2 separate regions of the Homo sapiens genome follow, and region 1 is linked to region 2. The links come from fine-mapping of genetic effects on gene expression. A gene starts in region 2. The other region holds a variant in brackets. All regions are shown on one strand. Distances are between the middles of the regions.

Region 1 (9,546 bases), 35 kb after region 2:
GGGCTGGAGTTTTCCAGTAAACGGGTCACACCCGCAGCTGAGCGTGCAGCTCACGTATGGTCAGGATGACTCAGGTGATCATAGGTGACTCCAACACCATATGTAAGACTGGACATTCTTCATTTAAATTAAAAAAAAATTAACCTGTGGGTCGCTGACTTTTCCTGAATCTGATCAAGAGAATTTGGCTTTATAAATATTTTTCTTGTCACATTTTGTTACATTGCAACGGAACAACAGGGTGCCCTTCCCTCCTTTTGTCTGCCCCAAATGATGAGGTAGATCTGAAGTGAGTGAGGTTATGGAAACAGCCAGCTTTTGTTTTATTTTTTGAGTTGCAATGCGCCTCTAAGAATCTTGCCTCGATAACAAATGTATTGTGAACTTTTCACCAAAAGTAAAAATAAAGTCACTTTCTAATTTTATTTACGTATTTTTAGAATTTACTTATTTTTTTTAACCTGTTGTCTCACAAAAATCTGGATCTAATTGTGTTTTGATTACCTAATCGGCCTACTTAGCCTTTGAGGGTATTTTTAAAATTTTATGAGTTTATCATAGAATTAAACTTCTACATGTTAGAATTCAGAGGTGATCAGGGTGAACCTCTTCTAACCCACCCTTTAGCATGAATTCTAATAGCTTTAGTAACCTCATAAGGGCTGGCTCAATTAGGAAGTTTTTCTCTGGTTTGAGCCCTCTTCCAATACTTCGCTGATCTAAATCTTGCCTCGTGGAGCAAGGCACATTATAAAAATTCCTCCGGATGAATGTTGACCATCCCCTTCCCCCTTCAGTTCTTCCATTTACAGTTCTCATCTCTTTGTCCTTGCCCAGCATTGTTTTTTCTGATCACTCATCATCCTTGTTGCCGTTTGGGATGGAGCACCCAGAAGTGAACAGGCTCTTGTGGAAGTGGTTGGATGATTATCAAGTTCCAAGTTGCCCTCTTTGTCTTGAATCCTGTTGCAAATGAATTCCCTGGCAGGCTTAGTATTTTTGGCATGTTGCTTTGCTGACTCACAGTAACCTTGCAGTCAACTAGGACCTTTCACGTGAACTATTATGAAGTTAGATTTCATTCATTGTGCAGATAATTGCATGACTTGAAGTGTAGGAATTTACAATGACCATTCTTAAAATTTCTCTCGTTCATTTGGCCTTAAGTTCAAAGCTGTTACAAGCTGTTACCCACCATGTTTACAGTTTCTGCTATCTATCAGTAAGCAGGAGGTCTAATAAGAATTGCCTTAAACTGGCCGGGCACAGTGGCTCACGCCTGTAATCCCAGCACTTTGGGAGGCTGAGCCGGGCGGATCCCCTGAGGTAAGGAGTTCGAGACCAGCCTGGCCAACATGGTGAAACCCCGTCTCTACTAAAAGGACAAAAATTAGCCGGGCGTGGTGGTGGGCTCCTGTAATCCCAGCTACTTATGAGGCTGAGCAGCAGAATAGCTTGAACCTGGGAGGTGAAGATTGCAGTGAGCCGACATCGCGCTACTGCACTCCAGCCTGGGCGACAAGAGCGAGACTCCCATCTCAAAAAAAAAAAAAAGCCTTTTAACTTTCGAATTTTTGTAAACATTGACCAAGGTGGGGCCAGATTCAGCGCTGTGTGGCACACCTCTACCCTTCCCTCTAGTTTGGTTATCAGTTGACAAACATTCAACCAGTGATCCTGTAATCTTACTGTCCTTCGTGACATCTCTATGTCTCCTCGCCCCATGAGTAACAAGTGAAAACAGTGGAGTAAAAGACTTGGAAAAAAATTGGAGAGGTGGAGCAAAGAAATCTTTCCTTGGAGCAAGGAAAAGCAAGAATTGAAGAAAAGTTGCTCTACTGGTCAGTAGGGTTAAGAGATTCAAAAGGTAGTGTGGAAATAACCTACAAAGAAACCACTGGATCCTTAACACACATTAAAAAATGAGGTGAATAATGGGTAGGGAGGATTAGTTACTTTGGTTTGAACCATTCTGTTGGAACTCTTCTAGTATAATGATGACAAAAAAATAATCATCAGCTTCTTACTCTGTGCCAGGCCTTTTACATGTGTTCCTCATGTTAATTCCATGAAGGAAGGTGCCGTTGCCACCATCTTAATGATGCGGGGCTAAGTAAATTGAAGCTAAATAACTTACTCAGGCAAGTAGTAGAGCCAGAATTTGAATCCACAAAATTTACTTGGGAACACAAACTGTTAACTACTGTGCTATAATGTACTTTAGCCTGCATAATATTTGAAGATTTATACGCAACTTGGTGGTCCTGTCTTCTTGAGGGTGAAGGAGATACTGCATGTGTATGGATCCCCACTCAATTTGCAGTGATATATGTAGGTTATAGCTAGTGGAAAAGGATAGTCATCTGCAGGGCCTCCCAGTTTCATCAGTCCTCTCTTTAGTCATGCTGGCTTATTTCCAGACATTAGATTACACCTTGACCTCCCTTCTCCAGTAATTTACATGGAGATAAAAATAATGTCTATTTTATAAAATAAGACCGATTTGGCTGGGCATGGTGGCTCATGCCTGTAATCCTAGCAATCTGGGAGGCTGAGATGGGCAGATCACCTGAGGTCAGGAGTTCGAGACCAGCCTGGCTAACATGTGAAACCCTGTCTCTACTAAAAATACAAAAATTAGCCGGGTGTGGTGGCGGGTGCCTGTAATCCCAGCTACTTGGGAGACTGAGGCAGGAGAATCGCTTGAACCGAGGAGGCGGAGGTGGCAGTGAGTCGAGATCACACCATTGCACTCCATCCTGGGTGACAGAGCGAAACTCCGTCTGAAAAAAAAAAACAACAAAAAACACACCATTTATTTTTGTGTCACCCTATTTAAAAAATGTCTCTTTTGATGATTTAAACAGTCTTCAATTCCCCACTTAGATATTGCAACCTTGGATGTGTTTGCCCCTATTGATTTCTGCCCTCTTTAGTATGATCCTCAGCAGTCACAATCATGTGTGTGAAACATTGCTCCTAATAACATAGGTGTTTCCCCAGTTGGCCTATAAGGCATTTTAGGGAAAGGACCATGCTGTTCTCTGGAGCCCTGACACCTAGGACACAATTGGAATTTTAGTGCTTCAGTTAGATCTACTCTACCACCCTTGGAGTAGAAATTATTTATAACACTTTTAAAATGAGGGAAACTAAAGCTTCTTGGTGATAAAATGTTTTGTTCTAAGTCACAAGGCAGAAAAGTACAGTCATGACTTGAAGTCAAACATAATCTCCAGGATGGTGGACAGAGGAAGTGTGAGGGTTTTGATGATGGACAAGTGTAGAAAATGGGTAAGAAGACCCCAATATATGCAGGAATATCAGTGCTTCCTAGCAGTACAAAATTGGATATTGACTTAAGGCTTGTCTGAAGTTGACCACTGGGTAAGCCCTAGCCTGGGAACCTGGCCCAGGTCCAGGGTCCCTTTCAACTGAAAATAGAGAAGACTGCTTCAGCTAATTTTAGCTCAGGGTTTCAAAGAGGTACATACTGCCTGTTTCTTGGAGGTGTTGGGACTTGCTGGTTTGGGGATTTTTACTCTTCTTACTTTATCATCAAAAACAGTGTATGAAAAAAGCACTTATGAATGCCATTTCATTTCAGTCTTGTAATAAGTGGCAGATATTCCAATTTTATAGAAGACCACTCAGGTTTAGAAAGATTGAAAGTGACTTGCTTGCTCAGGTCTTCTCACCAAATAAGTTTGTACTCTGGAATTGGACAACCTTGACTTTAAACTTTGGCCTGCCACTTAGTGGCTGACTTATCCTCTCTGAGCTCCTTGTTTAAAAAATGATTTGATGAAAGTTAATTCACAGAGTTCTTCTTGTGAGGATGAAATTGTGTCATTTTATTCCTGACATCCAGTAGGTACTTGGTGACTTGTAGTTTCACTTTCCTTTCTTCATTAGGTTGAGGAACTACTAGATGTACTCCTTTTCTTCTAAGAAATTAAAATTTAACCCATTTGGGTTGCTATCAGTCAGGTTCATAGATGGGTGTCTAGTAGCAAGAATAGATGCCAAGACAACTAAATCAATATTGAAGGTCTTGCTAGGAGAATGCAGCTACTTCTAGATGGGTCTTCTTTGATTTTCTGGTGCCTGGCACAGATGCTTGTTTTCTTAAGACAGGAATTGGATCTTCGCTGGATTGATAATAGCCCAGTAGTTTCTTTTAGGTTGGATATTGAAGCTTTTGCAAAGGAAATTGTTTTTTGGTTAATTAATTACGATACAGTCCATTGCCCCGTCAGTGCTTGCAACCAATTTTTAAGCCATCTGCATAGCTCTAATTTCTTTTCTTTTCTCTTTCTTTTTCTTTTTTTTTTTTTTTTTTTGAGATGGAGTTTTCACTCTTGTTGCCCAGGCTGGAGTGCAATGGTGCCATCTCGGCTCACCGCAACCTCCGCCTCCCGGGTTCAAGTGATTCTCCTGTCTCAGCCTCCTGAGGAGCTGGGATTACAGGCATGCGCCACCACACCTGGCTAATTTTGTATTTTTAGTAGAGATGGGGTTTCTCCATGTTGGTCAGGCTGGTCTTGGACTCCCGACCTCAGGTGATCCGCCTGCCTCGGCCTCCCAAAGTGCTGAGGTTACAGGCGTGAGCCACTGTGCCCGGCCAGCTCTAATTTCTAAAAGTTTATTTCTTAGCTAAGGTAGTCAGCAGATCTTGTGAACATAAATGACTGAAAATGGGGGCCCTAGGAAAGTCTTACTTCCAAGGAAAAACATCACTTTCTTATCTTTTATTTTCCTGAGATGTTAGATGTGAATTTAGTACTTAAGACACTATTTTAGAGAAGACAAATAGCTGTGAGATCTTCCTTTGGAATTTCATTGAGGACTAAGAATATTTGTCTTTGTAAAGTGTCCTATTGTGAGTGGAGACATCTGTGAAAAAGTAGCAGTGTGCTAATACCTGGAATTTTTAATGTGGACTTAAGATCTCTAAAGTTATATAAAGACAGCACAATGGTTTTATCCAGTAACATGACACTGGCTAGGTTTCTAGGTTAAGTTGGTTTCTCTTTGGATTCACAGGGTATTAATGATATTCTGGCGGTTGTATCGATGAAATCATCAATCTTTAAAACTATGGGCCAATTTGTGTTTGAATTCACTGATTGTAGCCATTTTGAAACTTCAATGTGCAAATAATTGCTTGGAGAGCTTGTTAAAATTGCACATTCCTGAGGATGTGTTCTCGTCTGGGCAGGGCCTTGGAAACATGTATTCTGAAAAAGCACCAGCTAGTTTTGAGGATATGTATTTTACATAATTTCTCTGGGTGATGAAAATAAACTCGAAGTTGGGAATCTTTCTTCTTGTGTTTGTAGTTTTGGAGTTTTTAGATTTTAGAATAAATGGTAGATGAAAACTACCTTGGTCACTTTGTCTTCCAGGGAGCACAGATGAAGTAGTTGGCTTGTGGCAGTGTTCTTCAAACTTGGATGTGCATCAGAATCACCAAGAGGGCTTATTAAAGTTTCTGATCCAGTAGATCTGGAGCGGAGCCTGATAATTTGCATTTCTAACAGATTCTGGGTGATACTGATGCCCCTAGTCCAGGGCCCACACTTTGAGATGGTTGGTTTGTAGTTAGGGACCATGTTGCAGGAAAAATATTAATTGCAGGATTAATTAAGGTGAGATGCACATAGCAAGAGAGCATATGGACAGTGGGTTTAACTGGGAAGAGCAGATTTGCACCTCTCACCTCATGATCGAGTCCAGGCATAGGCTTCATGAATAAAACAGTGGATGGAATTGTCTACGTTAGTGATATTTTTGTCTTAAAAATCAAGTGCATATAGTTGAATTTATGTATGTTAAATTTGTGTCTGGGCTGGGCACGGTGGCTCACACCTGTAATCTCAGCACTTTGGGAGGTGGAGGCGGGCGGATCATCTGAGGTCGGAAGTTCGTGACCAGCCTGGGCAACATGGTGAAACCCTGTCTCTACTAAAAAAAAAACAAAAACCAAAAACAAAAATTAACCAGGCGTGGTGGCGGGCGCCTGTATTCCCAGCTATTCAGGAGGCTGAAGGAGGAGAATCGCATGAACCCGGGAGGCGGAGGTTGCAGTGAGCTGAGGTTGTGCCACTGCACTCCAGCCTGGACAACAGAGTGAGACTCCATCT[C/CA]AAAAAAAAAAAAAAAATCGTGTCTGATGAAAAACATTGTGTGTTTCTTGGCATAGTAGGCACCTGTTTTATCTTCCCTTCTGGGTTGCACTCAAACCCCTTGAGAGTTGTGGTTGTGCTTTCCTCCTCAGAGGGTTTGTTTCTTAGCCTCAATATATATAATTGGTGCTTAAAAACACATCTGATATCTACTACATGACAGACTAAAAGTGACTCTAAATTTCTCTGCCTGTTTTTTTTTTTCTTGCCTAAAGACGGCAATGTCTGTCTTTTTGGGATTGTTTTGGCCTCAGCATTTTGCTTTGTGGATTTTTGTTTAAAAATGATTGATAGGCCCGGTGCGGTGGCTCACACCTGTAATCCCAGCACTGGGAGGCCAAGGTGGGTGGATCACCTGAGGTCAGGAGTTCGAGACCAGTCTGACCAACATGGTGAAACCCCATCTCTACTAAAAAAAAAAATACAAAAATTGGCTGGGGGTGGTGGCATGTGACTGTAGTCCCAGCTATTCAGGAGGCTGAGACAGGAAAATTGCTTGGACCCAGGAGGTGGAGGTTGCTGTAAGTCGAGATTGTGACACTGCACTCCGGCCTGGGTGACAGAGTGAGACTCTGTCTCAAAAAAAAAAAAAAAAAAAAAAAAAAAAATGCCAGTTTTCAGAAGGGTTGTGGCGGTTATATAAAATTGGGAATCACATTTTGACAATAGCTCTGTGTAGAGGGAATTAGCTTCAGCCTTACTGTTATTCTGGTATAGCATGCATTCTTCTAGCATCTTTAACACCTATAAAGAGCGAGTCAGAAGAACAAGTAGTGAGTCTGGATTTCTTAAGAGCTGCTTAGAGATGAATGGCAGAATGGGGTAGAGAAGGGAGAGTATTGAACTGGGGATTGGTTAGTGGATAGCCACATATGTCTTCTGGGAACACCAAAACAGAAAGGTGTGGGAGCAAGGGCTGTGAAACGATCCCTGTTTTGAGATAATTTACCTTATCTACCATTCTAAATGTTACATCTGTTCTGGATTAACCTGTGCTTCTAGCCAAGTGTTGGGGGAGGCAAATGATAAATTCATTGTTTCTAGGATTGTGTCAGATAACTATAACAGGAGGCAAAGAAGAGACCAGAACCAGATTTCTTCATGGCCAGTTTGTTTGAGCAATGAAGTTACTTAGGAGCATTTTTTAGTCCTTTTAGGAAAATACTGGAAAATGAAAAGCTTTAGGTGTGAGGATCTCCATGTGCTCAGAATATCCAAGCCAGTGAAATCCTTCTCACTTAATTTTTTCTTTCTTTGAGATGGGGTCCTGCTCTGTCTCCAGGCTAGAGTGCAGTAGCATGATCATGGCTCACTACAGCCTTGAACTCCTGGGCTCAAGTGATCCTCTCGCTTTAGCCTTCTGAATAGCTGGCACTACTAGAGGTGCTGGGTGCAAACCACATGCAGCAAGTTTTTAAATTTTTTTGTAGAAACAGCATTACCTTATGTTGCCCAGGCTGGTCTCAAATTCCTAGGCTCAAGCGACAATCCTCCCACCTCAGCCCCCAAAGTACTATGATTACAGGCATGAGCCAGTGTGCCGGGCCTATCTCCCTTTTTAAATCAGTGGGAGTTACATGTGCTTTGAACTTTGCGGAAGCAGGACGAATAATGGGAAATAAGGAAATACTTTATTTTTTGCTTTTGGTGTAAGCAAACATTTCATATCAGTATCCTGTTTCTAAAGTTAATGGCTTTACTGTTGAGATTTGCAAAAATAAAAAATACGTATTATCTTGTATCTAATTATGTGATTTTCCTCCTATTTTCTAGGAGGTGTGATTGCCTATATCAGTTCTTCCAGCTCAGCCTCAAGCCCTGCCTCTTGTCACAGTGAGGGTTCTGAGAATAGTTTCCAGTCCTCCTCCTCTTCTGTTCCATCTTCTCCAAATAGCTCTAATTCTGATACCAATGGTAATCCCAAGAATGGTGATCTCGCCAATATTGAAGGCATCTTGAAGAATGATCGAATAGATTGTTCTATGAAAACAAGCAAATCGAGTGCACCTGGGATGACAAAAAGTCATAGTGGTGTGACAAGTAAGTTACTTTGGTTTTCTAAAGATTGCTGCCATTAATTGCAAATGGGGCTTATTTTATCAGCTTTTCATTTAGGTGGCCATTATGTTTCTGGGTACAGTTTTCACTCCTTGCTGGGTAATCATACATCAGTAGTTAGGGAAGAAATCAGTGATGATGATAGAAGTTATAACCTAGGGGCTGTCATTAATTCTTGCCTCAGAGCAAGACATGTGATTATGTACTCTGCCTGACCCTGGTCCCTCTAGGGTACCCTCTTTTACTACATTTCACAGTTACTTTTCTTCTGAACTACTAGAACTAAGTCTTGTTTCTAGAACAGAGTACTTGCTCATTGTGGGAAGGGGTTACGTTAGTGAAACTGGATTTGGGAATATTTGGGATGAGGAAATGTTGGATTGGGATAACCAAATGAGTAGGGGGATTTGGACCTATCTGGCCTCTGTAGGTGAAGTAAATTGACACAGCTGCCTGTGGAGAGATATCCCTTTCCACCTTTTATTGATTGACTTCTCTGTCTGAATTCTTAATTGTTATCCAGAGAATTGTTTTCTTAGTTCTGGTTGCATATCTGGTATAAAGTAACTCTAAATTTACAAAATTTCTTATTTCCTGCTGACAGGTCTGGAAAAAAAATAAATTTACAAAATTTCAGTGTAATTCTAAAATCAGGAAAGGAAAAATCCGGGTCAGCGAGGTATTTTTGTCAGTGCCATAAGTTGTATTTAAAAGAAAATTATGGCTGGGTGTGGTGGCTCACACCTGTAATCCCAATATTTTTGGAGGCTGAGTGGGGCGGAGTCCAGGAGTTCAAGACCAGCCTGGGCAACATGGCAAAACCCCATCTCTACTAAAAATACAAAAATTAGCTGGGTGTGGTGGTGCATGCCTGTAGTAGTCCCAGCTACTTGGGAGGCTGAGGCATGAGAATCACATGAACCTGGGAAGTGTGGAGGTTGCAATGAGCTGAGATCACGCCACTGCGTTCCAGCCTGGGCGACAGAGGGAGACTCTATCTTTAAAACAAAACAAAGCAAAACAAAAAAAAAACACCGTAAGAAAATTATGATTGTGATTACTTTTGATTTGAAAATATTTTTCTTTTACATTATGAAAGTAGATGTGTATCTTCTAAAAGCTCTTACACGTTGAATGAAATAAAATATCTAATTGGAAAGAAAACAGACTCGGTGTTTCCTCCTACTTTTTACTTCGTGTCCTTTTGTGTCCTAGAATTTAGTGGCATGGTTCTACTGTGTAAAGTCTGTGGGGATGTGGCGTCAGGATTCCACTATGGAGTTCATGCTTGCGAAGGCTGTAA
Region 2 (16,393 bases):
TGGAATTAAATGGAAACTATACATAAAGCATTTCTGCATGCAATTATGGTAACTGTCTTGAGGAAAATCTCTTGTGTGTTTTAAATTGCAAGCTGAACTAGCCATCATTTTTAAAAAGAAGAAATGACAGAAAAACTATGTATTTACAATATTTGACAAACATTTTCTCAAAAAGTAATAAAGGAAGCCTATCATTTCAAGGAAAGTAACTATGGTAACAGTATTTGTTGTCAATAAAATTTGAGCTTTCAGGCAAAAATCAGAATTGTATCCATCATCATGAACTTGACAGATTCCCAATACTGATGAAATTGGTATTTCATCAGATATTAACAAAAGTGATATGGAAGACTTCCTTAGCGAACCAAAATTTCCAAAATGACCAATTCACGATGCTAAAAAACTCTGCTTGGGTAAAAAGATCCATTTAAAATGCAGGATCAATCAATGAGATTTTAATTTAGCAGAGTAAAAAAGTTCACGAATATGATTTCAGATTCTACACTGCAATAACCTTTAAGTAACCATCACTTGTTAAGTTTTAGTGAAATACCAAAGAAAAATACCCATAATTACCTGAAAAGGCTATTAAAGTATTCCTCCTACCTTTTCCAACTACATATCTGTGTGCGGCTGGATTTTCTTCATATATTTCAACTGAAACACCTCATCACAGCAGATTACAAAGGCAAGTGTTAATAGATATGATAATTGCCTTCTATTAAGCTGGACATCAGAAAAGATTTTCTAAAAAGTAAATCAATGCCACCTTTCTATTTTGAAAATATAATTTTTTTCATAAAGTTATTTTAGGATATAATGAGTTTATTAGTGTCATTTAGAAAAAATAAGTAGTTTACAAATGTCTCCATTTTCCTTTTCTTTTTTTCTTTTTTCAGACAGGGTCTCCTAAGTTGGAACATACTGGTGTGATCATGGCTCACTGCAGCCTCAACCTCCCATGTGATTCTCCCACCCCAGCATCTCAAGTAACTGGAACCACAGGCACATGCCACCATGCCCACCTGGATAATTTCTTTCTTTCTTTTTTTTTTTTTTCTTTTTTTCATTTTGTTTTGTTTTTAGTGGAGATGAGGTCTCAGGCTAGTCTCAAACTCCTGAGCCCAGCTGATCTTCCCACCTTGGCCTCCCAAAGTGCTGAGATTACCAAGCTGTGAGCCATCACGCCTGGCCACGGTTTTAATTTCTAATACAGTAAATGTTGGAAGATACAGCCCACATAAACAGAAGTTGTTTGGGGTCCTCAGTAAGTTTTCACAGGGCAAAAGGATTCTGAAACCAAAAAATTTGAGAACTACTGACATAGGTATTATAATAAACACTAAATATGAATTTAACCACAATTGTTAAACATTATTTTAGAAAGCTAGAAGAGAAGCAGAGCACATAGAAATGGTTAATGAAAAACAGAAATGTGGGCCAGGCGCAGTGGCTCACGCCTGTAATCCCAGCACTTTGGGAGGCCGAGGCGGGGGGATCACTTGAGGTCAGGAGTTCGAGACCAGCCTGGCCAACGTGGTGAAACCCCGTCTCTACTAAAATAAAAATACAAAAATTAGCCAGACGTGGTAGCACGCACCCATAGTCCCAGTTACTCAGGAGGCTGAGAAAGGAGAATTGGCTGAACCTGGGAGGCGGAAGTTGCAGTGAGCCGAGATTGCACCACTGCACTCAAGCCTGGGAGACAGGGTGAGACTCCATCTCAGAAAAACAGAAATGTGCTTTAAGTTACTTGCCAGAAAAAAATGCTTTGATGATCTCTGTTTACTTATCTAACACAAACGTCATTTCATTCTAACCTGTGATATCTATCTTCCTTACTAAGCCATGACCTCCAGAGATGCTATCTTCACCTCTGTAACCCAAGGCCTGATTACACGTATCATATACCAATTAATAAATAATTATTTGACTCAGCGAATGAATAAATGAATGAGGTAGCCCAATTCACAAAATTAAGTCATACTCACCAAACAACTGTTTCTTCCATTTTTAAAAATCTACATACAGCAGCTCTGCAAAGTTGTTTTTGTTTTTTTTTGTTTTTTTTTTTTTGAGATGGAGTCTCGCTCTGTCGCCAGGCTGGAGTGCAGTGGTGCAATCTCAGCTCGCTGCAACCTCTGCCTGTCACATTCAAGCGATTCTCCTACCTCAACCTCCTGAGTAGCTGCGACTACAGGCGTGCACCGCCACACCCAGCTAATTTTTGTATTTTTAGTAGAGACGGGGTTTCACCATGTTGTCCAGGATGGTCTTGATCTCTTGACCTCATGATCTGCCTGCCTCGGCCTCCCAAAGCGTTTGGATTACTGGTGTGAGCCACTGCGCTCGGCCTTTTTTTTTTTTTTTTTTTGAGACAGAGTCTCGCTCTGTAGCCCAGGCTGGAGTGTAGTAACACCATCTTGGCTCACTGCAACCTCAGCCTCCCAGGTTCAAGAGATTCTCCTGCCTCACCCCCTCAAGTAGCAGGATTACAGCCACCTGCTACTATGCCTGGCTAATGTTGTATTTTTAGTAGAGACAGGTTTCACCATGTTGGCCAGGCTGGTCTTGAACTCCTGACATCAGGTGATCCGCCTGCCTCGGCCTCCCAAAGTGCTGGAATTACAGGCCTGAGCCACCATGCCCACTGGAAAGTTATGTTTTCTTAAATCAGTGATTCTATGATTTGTAATGTAATGAATTTACACCATTCATTATGTAAATACACGGAAAACCACATATATACAAAGGAATATATATCCATATTGATCTATCTATATTGGCCATTTCTTTCCTTACCTGTGATAACTTACAGCAGGCACTCTTGAATTTCAATAACACTAAGACTTTTTTCCCTCCTCTTTTCTTACCTCTTAATCTCTTTTGGTCCCTCTGGATTATACCTCCCCTTTATGTACCATCAACCACCTTTAGTTTAGCATGACCAACAAAAGACCCCTGATAGCTCCCAGAACCTAGAGACAAACTAGAGAAAAACAATCTTACCAATAGTATGATTTCCATAAAGGAGCTGCTCCAAAATTGCAGTTTTCCCCACAGATAACAATCCACAAACCACAACCTTGCAGCCCTTTCCCATCTTCTCTCAGGATATCACTGTGGAGAGAATAACAGGTCTTTTAAATTGTATACTGTTGAAATTAACCATTTCTTTTTCTTTCAGTATTTCAATTTAATATGTAACACATGCACAGGGGAAATTTTCAAATACAGAAAAGGAGATATAGAATAAGGTATAGCCTTCCAAACCCCATTCCCCAGTCTCCCATTTCCTCCCTTAGAGCAATAAGCATTATCAGTTTCTTATATATCTCACGGAGACAATGTAGATAAATATAAGAATACAGGCCAGGCACAGTGGCTCATGCCTGCAATCCTACCACTTTGGGAGTCCAAGGCGGGTGGATCACCTGAGGTCAAGAGTTCGGCACCAGCCTGGCCAACATGGTGAAACCCCATCTCTACTAAAAATACAAAAATTAGCCAGGCGTGGTGGCACTCACCTGTAATCCCAGCTACTGGGGAGGCTGAGGCAGGAGAATCACTTGAACCCAGGGGGCGGAGGTTGCACTGAGCTGAGATTGCACCACTTCACTCCAGCCTGGGTGAAAGAGCTAGACTCTGTCTGAAAACAAACAAACAAAAAAACACATGGATAGGTATGAATACATCTTTGTTTTCAAAAAGAATAAATACATTTTATATGAAGAATATTTCAATACTGATTAAGTCTATAGCAATCCAACAGACTCTTAAATCCTTGAAAGAGACTGCCTACTCATCAATATTTACCTGGAAAAATAAACATTTAAGTAAAAATTTAAGGAGGCATGAGGATAAAGTTTTTAGAAAATGGACATGATTTTTCAAAGAAACATGAAAGTTTATGTCAGTCTTTTCTCGAGAAGGGAAGAAACTGGATTTTGGTAGTCACGTGGGCTTTTTTTTTTTTTTTGAGACAGGGTCTAGCTCTGTCACTCAGGCTGGAGTGCAGTGATGAGATTTCGGTTCACTGCAACCTCCGCTTCCCAAGGGCAAGCGATTCTCCTGCCTCAATCTCCCAAGTAGCTGGGATTACAGGTGCCTGCCACCATGCCCGGTGAAATTTTTGTATTTTTAGTAGAGACGGGGTTTCACTATGTTGGCCAGGATGGTCTCAAACTCCTGACCTCAAGTGATCCGCCTGCCTTGGCCTCCCAAAGTGCTACGATTACAGGCGTGAGCTACTGCGCCTGGCTGTCACGTGGGCTTTCTTAATCATATTTCTTTTTGAGGAAGAATAGACAACTCTAGAAAAATTGCCCATGCACAGGACTTCATGACTAAAACACCAAAAGCAATGGCAACAAAAGCCAAAATAGACGAATGGGATCTAATTAAACTAAAGAGCTTCTGCACAGCAAAAGAAACTACCATCAGAGTCAACAGGCAACCTACAGAATGGGAGATTTTTGCAATCTACCCATCTGACAAAGGGCTAATATCCAGAATCCACAAAGAACTTAAAAAAATTTATAAGAAAAAAACAAACAACCCCATCAAAAAGTGGGCGAAGGATATGAACAGACACTTCTCAAAAGAAGACATTTATGCAGCCAACAGACACATGAAAAAATGCTCATCATCACTGGCCATCAGAGAAATGCAAATCAAAACCACAATGAGATACCATCTCACGCCAATTAGAATGGTTATCATTAAAAAGTCAGGAAACAACAGGTGCTGGAGAGGATGTGGAGAAATAGGAACACTTTTACACTGTTGGTGGGACTGCAAACTAGCTCAGCCATTGTGGAAGACAGTGTGGCGATTTCTCAAAGATCTAGAACTAGAAATACCATTTGACCCAGTAATCCCATTACTGGGTATATACCCAAAGGATTATAAATCATGCTGCTATAAGGACACATGCACACGTATGTTTAATGGGGCACTATTCACAATAGCAAAGACTTGGAACCAACCCAAATGTCCATCAATGATAGACTGGATTAAGAAAATATGCCACATACGTCGGGCGCGGTGGCTCATGCCTGTAATCCCAGCACTTTGGGAGGCCAAGGTGGGCGGATCACGAGGTCAGGAGATTGAGACCATCCTGGCTAACATGGTGAAACCGTCTCTACTAAAAATACAAAAAATTAGGTGGGGCTTGCAGTGAGCCGAGATCATGCCACTGCACTCCAGCCTGGGTGACAGAGTGAGACTCCGTCTCAAAAAAAAAAAAAAAAAAAAAAAAGTAATACACTACAAATGTACTTTGATCACTCATTGATAATATGATTATCAGGATAATATAATTATCAGGATAATAGGATTAACAGACAACGTTTGCTAAAAATTATACATTGTTTTGTATTGTATGTATATATTAATAAATTGGGGAGTTCCTTTTGATATTACCAAAGAAGTCTTCATCATGGGCAAACGGTAAAAGTAACTGAATAAAAGTAGCTCAAAACACTAGCTAAGAATTTTAAGCATTTTTTGGAAGGAAAGCAAAGAGATGACAGAACAGACCTCATTAAATATTTTACACTATCAAAAAGAAAACAAAGATGAAAAGATAAGTGTGATTAATCAAAGCAGGCTGAAATATTCTAGGTTCCTGGTTGCCTTCCAAATAGGAAACAATACCACTACATAAAGCAGATGAGTGCCTTGCTACCATCAATTACAAAGTTAAGAATTCTTTAAAAAATAATTAACATTTTGAATAAATAACACATACACAAAAATACTTTATTTTCTATAAATGATCGCTATGGCAGGAACTCACATTACAAATAAGTGGTTCTCATGCTTAGATATTTTCAGATTTACAAATAAAAACTACTAAAAGTTTGGTTCTTAAAGCACTTATAATTATTTAATAATTCCCAAACACAATAAATGTACACCAGTTCCTGCGAAATATACAAAGGTGGTCATCTGCAGTACCCTGAATGGGCACTGAATCACATGAACCGATCCTGGGGTAACCAAGCCTCTTACTTAAATCTAGGTTTCAAGAATTTGAAAGGCTCTGTAGTACATGGGTCACCTTTAGGTTCCTTTCAACACTGTGATGCCATGATATTAGAAGTTGCTTATCCAGAGAATACATCAACACTGAGGTGAACACAAAAAGCAGTAGTTACAGCTACTTGTCACATCCCTACCCTAAGAAACTGGGCAATAAAATTCAATCTGTGACCTATTAAACCTCACCTGATGTAAATTACTAAGAGAACGTGCTTAATAGGCAAGATTCAGGGCAGTCTTAAATACTTATTGCTTTACTTTCCAGGCTAATCAATAACATTGCTAGAGAATAAATACAACCTCCTCTCTCCAACTTGAGGCTAAAAAAAAAAAAAAACAGAGAGTAAATATATGACCTGGTCCATTCCTGTGAAATGCTTTGTCAACATTTTCTTTGAAGAGCCATCAGAAACAGCTCCCCAAAACCGTTATTGCTTCTGTTCTTCTATGTAAGTGGGCCATTCTATTTTTATAAGTAAAACACAACTTTCTGACGCAACCAGAAAAACAATACCAAAACACTGTTAACATCATAGGAGAGATGTTATAAATCTCTAAAAATACTGTCATGTGGGGAAACCACCTACACTGTGTATTTACTTATGTCAACATTATGTATAGTGTGGAATACTTTCACTTATCCATATATGAATATATTTACATACATAAAAATATATTCAACAGGTTTTGCACACAGTATTGCACAAAATAAAATGTAATAAAGCAGATTCTAGCTTACCATTCTTTTATTCATTTACCAAACATTTACTGAGGGCCTGCCATCATGCCAGCCATCAGGGACAAACTAGGGGGCAAAAACAGAAATCATCCCTTGTCCTCAGGAATCTCAAAATCAACTGGAAACACAAATCCAAATCTTGTAAAACTGTTAACTGAGAAACTACAAATTGAGAAACAAAACTGCAAATGTGATTGATAAATTAGCAGTGATTATTCACACTACTAGAATTGTTTTTCCAAATGATTCATCCAACTTTTTAAATTTTATTTTTACTGCTCCTTTAGGAGCAGGACTACGCCCATAGGCAGCGTACCTACAGTAGCACATTCAACTTTTTAGTCATCCTCACCTTTGAAATACATACAGGGCTGCACTACTTACCATTTTCATCACTACTGAAGTGGTCTGGGTGAGGCACCATGTTCTCTCACCTGGTCTCTCAAAGATATCGTAATCCCCCAAACCTGTGAATATGTTTACTTTACATACTCATACAAGAATTTTGCGGGGGTGATTAAATTAAGAACTTCCATACGAAGATATTATCCTGAATTATCTAGGTGGGCCCAGTGTAATCACAAGTGTCTTTATAAGAGACACACAGGAGTGCTGGAGAGGACAGAAGGTGTAATTGGAAGATGCTCCTTTGCTGGCTGTGAAGATGAAGGAAGCAGTCAGGAGCCAAGGAATTCAGGCAGGCTTCATAAGGTGGAAAAGCCAAGGAAATAAATGTACTCTCCCCTAGTACCTCCAGAAGGAACACAGCCCTACTGACTTTGGTTTTAGCTTGGTGATATTTACAGATTTACAGACCTAGTCTGATGTACAAACTAAAAGACGGTAAATTTGTATTATTAACCAACAAAGTTGCTGAAATTTGTTACAGGAGCAATGGAAGACTAACACAATTTCCTAAGCAGTCTCTCTGCTTCCATTTTTTCTCTCCTTTTAGCCTCAAAAGGAGCAATCCGAGTTATCTTTTTAAAATGTACGCCATATGAAGTCATCCTTCTGTTCAAAATCTGCCAATGAAATCCAAAGTCCATGTGAGAACCTTCACCTCTCCGACGTCATTTCCCACTTTCCCCTACTGTGAATTTCAGCCACACTGCTTCCCTGCTGTTCCTCTATTAATCTTGCATGCTCCAGTCATGGCTCTTCTCCCTCTGCCTGAATCAGACCCCTACTCTTACTCCCAGACTCCTATCCTTGAAGTCCTTTCTTAAATGTTACCTTCTCTCAAAGACTTAACCTGGACACTCCATTCCAAATTGCAACCCTCAGCCGCTAACACTCCCTCATCACTTCCCTCCCCTTATCTTTTTTCCTTAGCATTTACCACCAAACCCAAAACACAGCTTACTTCTGCTTACTGCCCATTTCCAAGAAGGCCAAAAATTCTGCGTTGTTTCCTGCTGCATCCCCAGCAACTATGCCTGGCACATATTAGACACTTAATAAATATTTGTTGAATCAATCAATGAACCAGATAGAGACTCTTAAAAACGTAAAGCTGTGATTTAAAAAGAAAGAAAGAAAAATATGATGTGGGAAAAAAGATAATCAAAACCGCTACGATTAAGAGATAATGATTCTCTTAAGCCTTTGCCACATCTGAACGCATAATCTGGAAGGAAATTAAAGCCACATGACTTAAATTAAAGCCAAGTGAAAATATTCTGGAGAAACAAAGTAAGCCAGTAACCTATTTCTCAATTTAAAAAAAAACCCGCAACGCAAAATGCCAGCATTTTCTCGGCATTTCTTCTCTAAAACATTCACACCTGCCAAACAGGTCTTGGCAAATAAACATTCTGCTCTTCTGAAAAACTGTGGTTCTCATGTTAGCAAATTTGGGACGAAATCCGTATGCAGAAAAAGCGCCGGGCCGCCCGCAATCCACCCACTCCATGACCCTTTTTTAGGACAAAATCCCTGGGCGCTGGGGCCTGCTGGAGGAGCTTCACGCAGTCTGGAGCTGAAGGGACACAGCGAGCGCCCCGACCCGCGACGCCCCGACTCCGCGAAGGCCTCCCTGGGAGGCTGGGGAAGCGTCGGGGGATCTCTCAGCGCAGCTCTGGGGCCCAGATTTCTGCGCCCGTCGTGCGGTGGCCAGAGAGGGACAGCGCAGCGCGGAGACGCGGAGACGCAGAGACTCCGCAGGGGGAGAGCCCGCGGTGCGTGAAACAAACCTGTTCTCTCCTCAGACCTCAAAGACAGCGGCTCCACCGCGGTACGCGGCCACCGGCTTTGGAGCCTGGACCCCAACTTGCCTCCTCTCGCGGAGAGACAGTCGCCGACGCTCGCTTAGCCGCCGAGACCTCGCCGCCAACTCTCTCACCTCTCGAGACGCCCAGGCCGCTCAGGCTCGAATCTTGCGGAGCAGGGGGCGGGACAATAGCGGCCGCGGCGCCCCACTCGGCAGAACTCCGCCACCAGGCGCGATGCCGGAACTACATGTCCCATGACGCTCTGGGAGGCCGCAGCTTTCCACCGGAAAGAGGGTGGCTGAGGTGGGGGAGGAGCCCAAAAGGCATTGTGGGAGTACAGCTCTTTCCTTTCCGTCTGGCGGCAGCCATCAGGTAGGCTGCGTTGAGGATCTTTGCTCTTCCATCCGCCTTTGATCGTCTTCCTCTTCAGCCATCCAGGTCCGGGGACCCTGCGTCCTCGGAGATAGGTCTCCCTCCTGTGCGGCCAGAGTTTGGTCAGGATGCGGGACAGCAAAGGGGTGGAGAGGCGGCCCCCGGGGCGGGTTGAGCGAAGATGTGATGGCGGCGCGAATTCGAGCTGGGCCCGGATCCTGGAGGAGGCGTGGGGCTGACGAATGGGGCGCCCGGGACAAGGCAGCCTAAAGTGAGGCTGCTGGTTGGGTGGGGTAGATGCATTTTCCTCGAGAGTTAATCCTCGGTGGCCGCAGCAGTACCTTGTCCTGTGATGTCAGCGGCATCTCCTTTCAGGTCCTCCTTGGGGACGCCGCCTGCCGCAGCCACCCGCCCCCTTGGTGCTCAGTTCTGGTTCTGTTAATTCGCCCCACCAAAACGTGCCGAGCACCGCTCTGTGCTGGGGTTGCGGAAGTGACTGAACGCGGCTCCGTGGGCGCAGTGGTGGGGGTTGGGCTAGCTGTCCCCGGCAGTTGGTGCAGAGCCATTTTCATTCCCGGCGGTTTCCTTGTTTTTGTTGGGGAACTAAGATGGACGGATACAGTCGTCTTATTGTACTTAAAGCGGATGATATTTAATACACAGTTTGATTTCACAGGTAAGCCAAGATGGGTGCATACAAGTACATCCAGGAGCTATGGAGAAAGAAGCAGTCTGATGTCATGCGCTTTCTTCTGAGGGTCCGCTGCTGGCAGTACCGCCAGCTCTCTGCTCTCCACAGGGCTCCCCGCCCCACCCGGCCTGATAAAGCGCGCCGACTGGGCTACAAGGCCAAGCAAGGTACGTGATCGACTGCGTGGATGCTTGGATAAAATTATATTCGAGAAAAGTTGGAAACCAGCTGTTAGGAAGACACTGCTGCCTCAGTGTCTTTCTTCGCATAGGGCTTTGGCAGAAAAAAGCTAGCAACACTGGTCAGTTACTGTATGCACTGTTGTCTAAAGTGGCAAGTGTGTCAAAGGTTACAAATCTGAATGAGTTCAGACTAAAGCAAAATAAACAGTGTGCCTCCCTGTGTGAGTAGCCTAAGGTGCATTGAAAAAGACTGGGATGTGTTTTATTTTTTTCTATTAGATAGCATTAACTTACTGTTGAAGTATTTTTGGTGGAGTATTAGTGACAAGCCATTGAGTCTTAAGCCTTACGGCTTCCTATAAAATCACTAATTTCGTGTGTGTTTGTGTGTAGGTTACGTTATATATAGGATTCGTGTTCGCCGTGGTGGCCGAAAACGCCCAGTTCCTAAGGGTGCAACTTACGGCAAGCCTGTCCATCATGGTGTTAACCAGCTAAAGTTTGCTCGAAGCCTTCAGTCCGTTGCAGAGGTAAATGGTTTTGAGTAGCAGTTATATTGAATACTGCCTGGGGATGGTGGGAGAGAGAGATTAAGCAACTTTTCTGATTGTACTTAGGTGAGCTGTCTCGTATATAAAACAGGGTTTGTGATTTTTACTAATCTTGGTGAAGAGTAATTGCTTGAAAGACTTGTCTTTGTTACAAATGCGTGTGTATATACTGGAAGTACTTGTGGAACCTAAGCTTTAAAGCGGCAAGAATATGCAGAAGAGACCAAATGTGGCCTGCACAGCCTAAAATATATACTAAATATTTTTAAAGCTAAACGTTGCTGAGCTCTCAGTTGTATGGAAAAAGATAAGGTCCCCAAACCCTAAATTTTGTTACCCAGATATTAACATATTCCTGCCCTAGTCAGGAATGGAGTATTAAGAGGGAATGATGTGTTTCAGTCTATGTGTGTTGTTTTAGCAAGTCTACATTATCTCATTACACTTGTGATAGTCTAGGGAGAAATGCTTAGTAAATAACTTGAGTAGTAAAAGACTCTTGTCTGGTGGTGAACTAGAGTTGAGAATTAAAATTCTTTCTGACTTGCTGCTATAGGCAATGTGGGAGATTGACCTTGGGCCTTTTTTCCTATTCTAGGAGCGAGCTGGACGCCACTGTGGGGCTCTGAGAGTCCTGAATTCTTACTGGGTTGGTGAAGATTCCACATACAAATTTTTTGAGGTTATCCTCATTGATCCATTCCATAAAGCTATCAGAAGAAATCCTGACACCCAGTGGATCACCAAACCAGTCCACAAGCACAGGGAGATGCGTGGGCTGACATCTGCAGGCCGAAAGAGCCGTGGCCTTGGAAAGGGCCACAAGTTCCACCACACTATTGGTGGCTCTCGCCGGGCAGCTTGGAGAAGGCGCAATACTCTCCAGCTCCACCGTTACCGCTAATATAAGTAAAGTTTGTAAAATTCATACTTAATAAACAATTTAGGACAGTCATGTCTGCTTACAGGTGTTATTTGTCTGTTAAAACTAGTCTGCAGATGTTTCTTGAATGCTTTGTCAAATTAAGAAAGTTAAAGTGCAATAATGTTTGAAGACAATAAGTGGTGGTGTATCTTGTTTCTAATAAGATAAACTTTTTTGTCTTTGCTTTATCTTATTAGGGAGTTGTATGTCAGTGTATAAAACATACTGTGTGGTATAACAGGCTTAATAAATTCTTTAAAAGGAGAGAACTGAAACTAGCCCTGTAGATTTGTCTGGTGCATGTGATGAAACCTGCAGCTTTATCGGAGTGATGGCAATGCTCTGCTGGTTTATTTTCAAGTGGCTGCGTTTTTTTTAGTTTGGCAGGTGTAGACTTTTTAAGTTGGGCTTTAGAAAATCTGGGTTAGCCTGAAGAAAATTGCCTCAGCCTCCACAGTACCATTTTAAATTCACATAAAAGGTGAAAGCTCCTGGTTCAGTGCCATGGCTTCATGGCATTCAGTGATTAGTGGTAATGGTAAACACTGGTGTGTTTTGAAGTTGAATGTGCGATAAAATTATTAGCCTTAAGATTGGTAAGCTAGCAATGAATGCTAGGGTGGGAAGCTGGTGAGCCAGTGGCCATTAGATAAATACCTTTCAAGTGTGAGCTTAGACGTCAACCCTAAAATACTTAACCGTAATGCTAATTGTGATCATTATGAATCCCTTCAGTCACATTAGGGGGAAAGTAGTTGGCTATAAGTACGTCATTCTTAGTCCAGTCAGTCTTAAAAACATCTTGGGTTACCCACTCTGTCCACTCCCATAGGCTACAGAAAAAGTCACAAGCGCATGGTTTCCAACCATATGTGTTTTCTGCAGTTATTTCTCTTGTTCTGGCCAAACAACCCTAAAAATCCTTACCATTCCACAAAGTTGGACCATCACTTGTGCACCCACTTTGACTATGAGTATACCACCACATTGCATTTCTGTTTGCACCATGTCTTCCAGGAGACTAGACTACTGTTGTCCAGGGTCAATTTGAGTGTAAAGAAAATGTAGACAAGGAATTGCCCAATTTTAAATTCTGACTTTGCTGACTTAATTTAAATGCTCGTTCTGAACCAATTTTCTCCTATCTTCTCTAGGGGTTTCAAAAGACTCAGTTAATTGATTTCCAGGAAGTACTCATAGCAAGTTCATAAAAGTTCTTGAGACCTAAATTTCTTCACAAAAAAAGAAAAGATCTTAAGTCATACATTTTAATTGTGTAGAGGTTGTTCAACTGAAGGAATAAATGTCTATTAAACTAAAACAAATGGACCTTCTGTTATTTTTTGTCATCTTACAGTGCTAATGTACTTTAAAGCAAACCAAATGCCCTAACCAGCAAAAAGGCATCAAAATGTGATTATAGAAATAATATAATTTGAGATAGCATAAAATGTACTTATTCTCTCAGTTCTTTGATCATTGCATGAATTAGGTTTTTATCTAAAACTGTTCAGCTGGGTGTGGTGGCTCAGGCCTGTAATCCTGGCACTTTGGGAGACAAGCTGGAGGATTTGTTGAGGCCAGCCTGGGCAGCATAGTGAGACCTAAAAACAAAAAAAATCCTTAAACATGACTAATTTGGGAAGGAGAGAAAGGGTTCGGGCCAAAGGTCAGCATTGTCTCTACAAGAAAACCTTGTTCCTGTCCTTGCTACCCAACAGTTTTATCTCCACACAGTAGTCCAAGGGATCCTATTAAATTGATCATGGCACTCCCGTGCAAAAAAATCAAAAGTCCTCATGATAGCTTTCATGATCTTCCCACTTTATGTGTGACCTCATGTCCTACTGCAGTCCACACCCCAGGCTCCTTGCTGTTTGTTCTTCAAATACACCAAACACTTCCTAATGCCTTTATGATGGGAAAGCTTTACTCCAATATTAAGGGTCACTTTATTAGCTATACCCTGACCGCCCCACAAGCTGTTCCCATTTGCTTTACTATTTCTATATTGGCATGTAATTCACACAGCAACATTGATTATTGAGTTTTTTTTTTTTTTTTTTTTTTTCCAGATGGAGTCTCACTCTCACTCAGGTGGGAGTGCAGTGGGGCAATCACGGCTCACTGCAACCTCTGTCTCCCGGGTTTGAGCAATTCTTCTGCCTCGGCCTCCCAAATAGCCAGGACTACAGGCGCACACTGCCATGCCCAGCTAAGTTTTGTATTTTTAGTAGAGACTGGGTTTCACTATGTTGGCCAGGCTGGTCTCGAACTCCTGACCTCAAGTGATCCACCTGCCTTGGCCTCCCAAAGTGCTGGGATTACAGGCGTGAGCCACCACCCCCAGCCCAATTTTTATTTTTTGTACAGACAGGATCTCACTATGTTGCCCAGGTTGGTCTCAAACTACTGGCCTCAAGCAATCCTGCCTTGGCCTCCCAAAGTGCTGGAATTATAGGAATGAGCCACCACACCGGGCCCAAATTTACTTTAGTAATAACAACAATTGGCTGGGTGCGGTGGCTCACGCCTGCAATCCCAACACTTTCGGTAACCAAGGTGGGCTTGAGCTCATGAGTTAGAGAGCAGCCTGAGCAACGTGGTGAGAGCCCATCTCACAAAAAATAACAAATCAGCTGGGCATGGTGTTGCACGCCTGTAGTCTCCGAAATCACACCACTGCACTCCCATCTTGGGTGATAGAGCCAGAACTTGTCTCAAAAATAACAATTGGTTTCTTACAATCCCAAAAGGTGCAGTTACTAGTATTAATCCTTTTTTGCCAATGAGGAAACACAAAGATGAAGCAACTTGCTCAAAGTCATACAGTGACAGTCTGAATTCAAATCCTATACACTTAAAGTTTATTTGTTTTGTTTTGGTTTTTTTTGAGATGGAGTCTCACTGTGTCGCAAGGCTGGAGTGCAGTGGCACGATCTCAGCTCACTGCAACCCGGGTTCAAGCGATTCTCCTGCCTCAGCCTCCCGAGTAGCTGGGACTACAGGCACGCACCACCACACCCAGCTAATTTTTGTATTTTTAGTAGAGACGGTTTCACCATGTTGGCCAGGATGGTCTCGAGCTCCTGACCTCAGGTGATCCTCCCGCCTTGGCCTCCCAAAGTGCCGGGATTACAGGTGTCAGCCACTGCACGTGGCCAACTTAAAGTTTTTGATAGATAATACATTAACGTTAAAAATTCAAAAGATAAGTATAGGCTCTACAGTACAAACCCTTCTGCCTCCTAGTTCCTCTCCCTGGAGGCAAGGTGATCAGTTTAACAATATTTTTTTATTTTGAGACAGGGTCTCACTGTTGCCCAGGCTGGAGTGTAGTGGCGCGTTCACAACTTACTGTAGCCTCAACCTCCTGGCTCAAGCAATCCTCCCACCTCAGCCTGTCGAGTAGCTGGAACCACAGGTGCACACCACCATGCCAGGCTAATTTTTGTATTTTTTGTAGAGACAGGGTTTCACCATGTTGTTCAGGCTGGTCTCAAAGTCCTGGGCTCAAGCAATCTTCCTGTCTCTGCTTCCCAAAGTGCTGGGATTACAGATGTGGGCCACGGTGCCTGGCCTACATATGTATTTTTTCCTTTTCTTCCCCAAGTGGTAGGATATGATACACATTGTTGATTTTTTTGTTTAGTTATGTATCTCAGAGCTTATTCTTTATCAGCTCATGAGGAACTTCATTTTTTTTTTTTTTTTTGAGATGTAGTTTTGCTCTTATAGCCCAGGTTGGAGTACAGTAACACAATCTTGGCTCGCAGCAACTTCTGCCTCCCAGGTTCAAGCGATTCTCCTGCCTCAGCCTCCGAGTAGCTAGGATTACAGGTGCCTGCCACTACATCCAGCTATTTTTGTATTTTCAGTAGAGACGGGGTTTCACCATTTTGGCCAAGCTGGTCTCGAACTCCTGACCTCAGGTGATCCGCCCATCTCAGCCTCCCAAAGTAGTGGGATTACAGGCATGAGCAACCGTGCCCGGCTGGAACTTCATTCTTTTGGTATAACTGCATGGTATCCCATCATGTGGATGTACCATGATTCATTGGATGTGGACCCTCCTGATGGACATTTAAATTTCTTCCAATCTGTTGCTATTACAAAAAGAAAAATGTGTGCATACATCTTTATTCATCTGTAGAATAAATTCTTAGAAGTAGAATGGCAGAGTTAAAAATTGTATGTATATAATTTTTTATAGATATTGCCAAATTGTCTTCCATAAAAGTTGAACCAATTTTCACTACCACCAGCAAAGTAGGAGAGGACTTGTTTATCCACACCCTCTTTAATGTATGTAATCAAATTTTGGGATATCTGCCAGTCTGTTAGGGGGAAATGATACTCTTCTCTACTTTTATTTTGCATTCTGAGTGTGGCAGAGGCAAAGCTATGTGCATACCATAGCTTTTTCTCCCCCTGAAAACACAACTAAACTACATTGTTTTCCTGGCCTCTCATGCATTTAGGTTGGGGTCATATTACTTCCCTCCAAGAAAAACAACAGTTGGTATGCCTCCTCCACACTTCCCACAACTGTGGAAGCCAGTGATCCAGATAGCATAGCTATTAATACAAGATGGGTGAAAGCTGCTCAACCGCATCAGACAGCATGAGTGGTAAGATTTTATTGTGTCAAACGACTGCATTAGTTGTGTTT

What was found. PIP is the estimated chance that this variant, and not a neighbour inherited with it, causes the effect.
Region 1: its variant is fine-mapped to the expression of RPL15 in whole blood (INTERVAL, PIP 0.97).

Annotation. Positions count from the first base shown.
Region 1 is chr3:23,946,579-23,956,124 of GRCh38, forward strand. It overlaps NR1D2 (nuclear receptor subfamily 1 group D member 2), which reads left to right. Exons shown (of 8, transcript NM_005126.5): 2 at 7,959-8,225; 3 at 9,459-9,546. Among named protein-coding and RNA genes, the nearest start is that of NR1D2, 6.1 kb to the left of the region's middle. RefSeq lists a silencer at 2,160-2,454. The variant C/CA (reference allele first, on the strand shown) is at 6,147.
Region 2 is chr3:23,907,802-23,924,194 of GRCh38, forward strand. It overlaps RPL15 (ribosomal protein L15), which reads left to right and starts at 9,331. Exons shown (of 4, transcript NM_002948.5): 1 at 9,331-9,372; 2 at 10,049-10,230; 3 at 10,639-10,775; 4 at 11,395-13,188. The coding sequence starts at 10,059. The coding sequence ends at 11,700. NKIRAS1 (NFKB inhibitor interacting Ras like 1) reads right to left here and starts at 9,189. Exons shown (of 5, transcript NM_020345.4): 1 at 8,983-9,189; 2 at 3,528-3,649; 3 at 3,010-3,120. The coding sequence starts at 3,103. RefSeq lists enhancers at 8,793-9,592, 8,844-10,043, 9,973-10,072.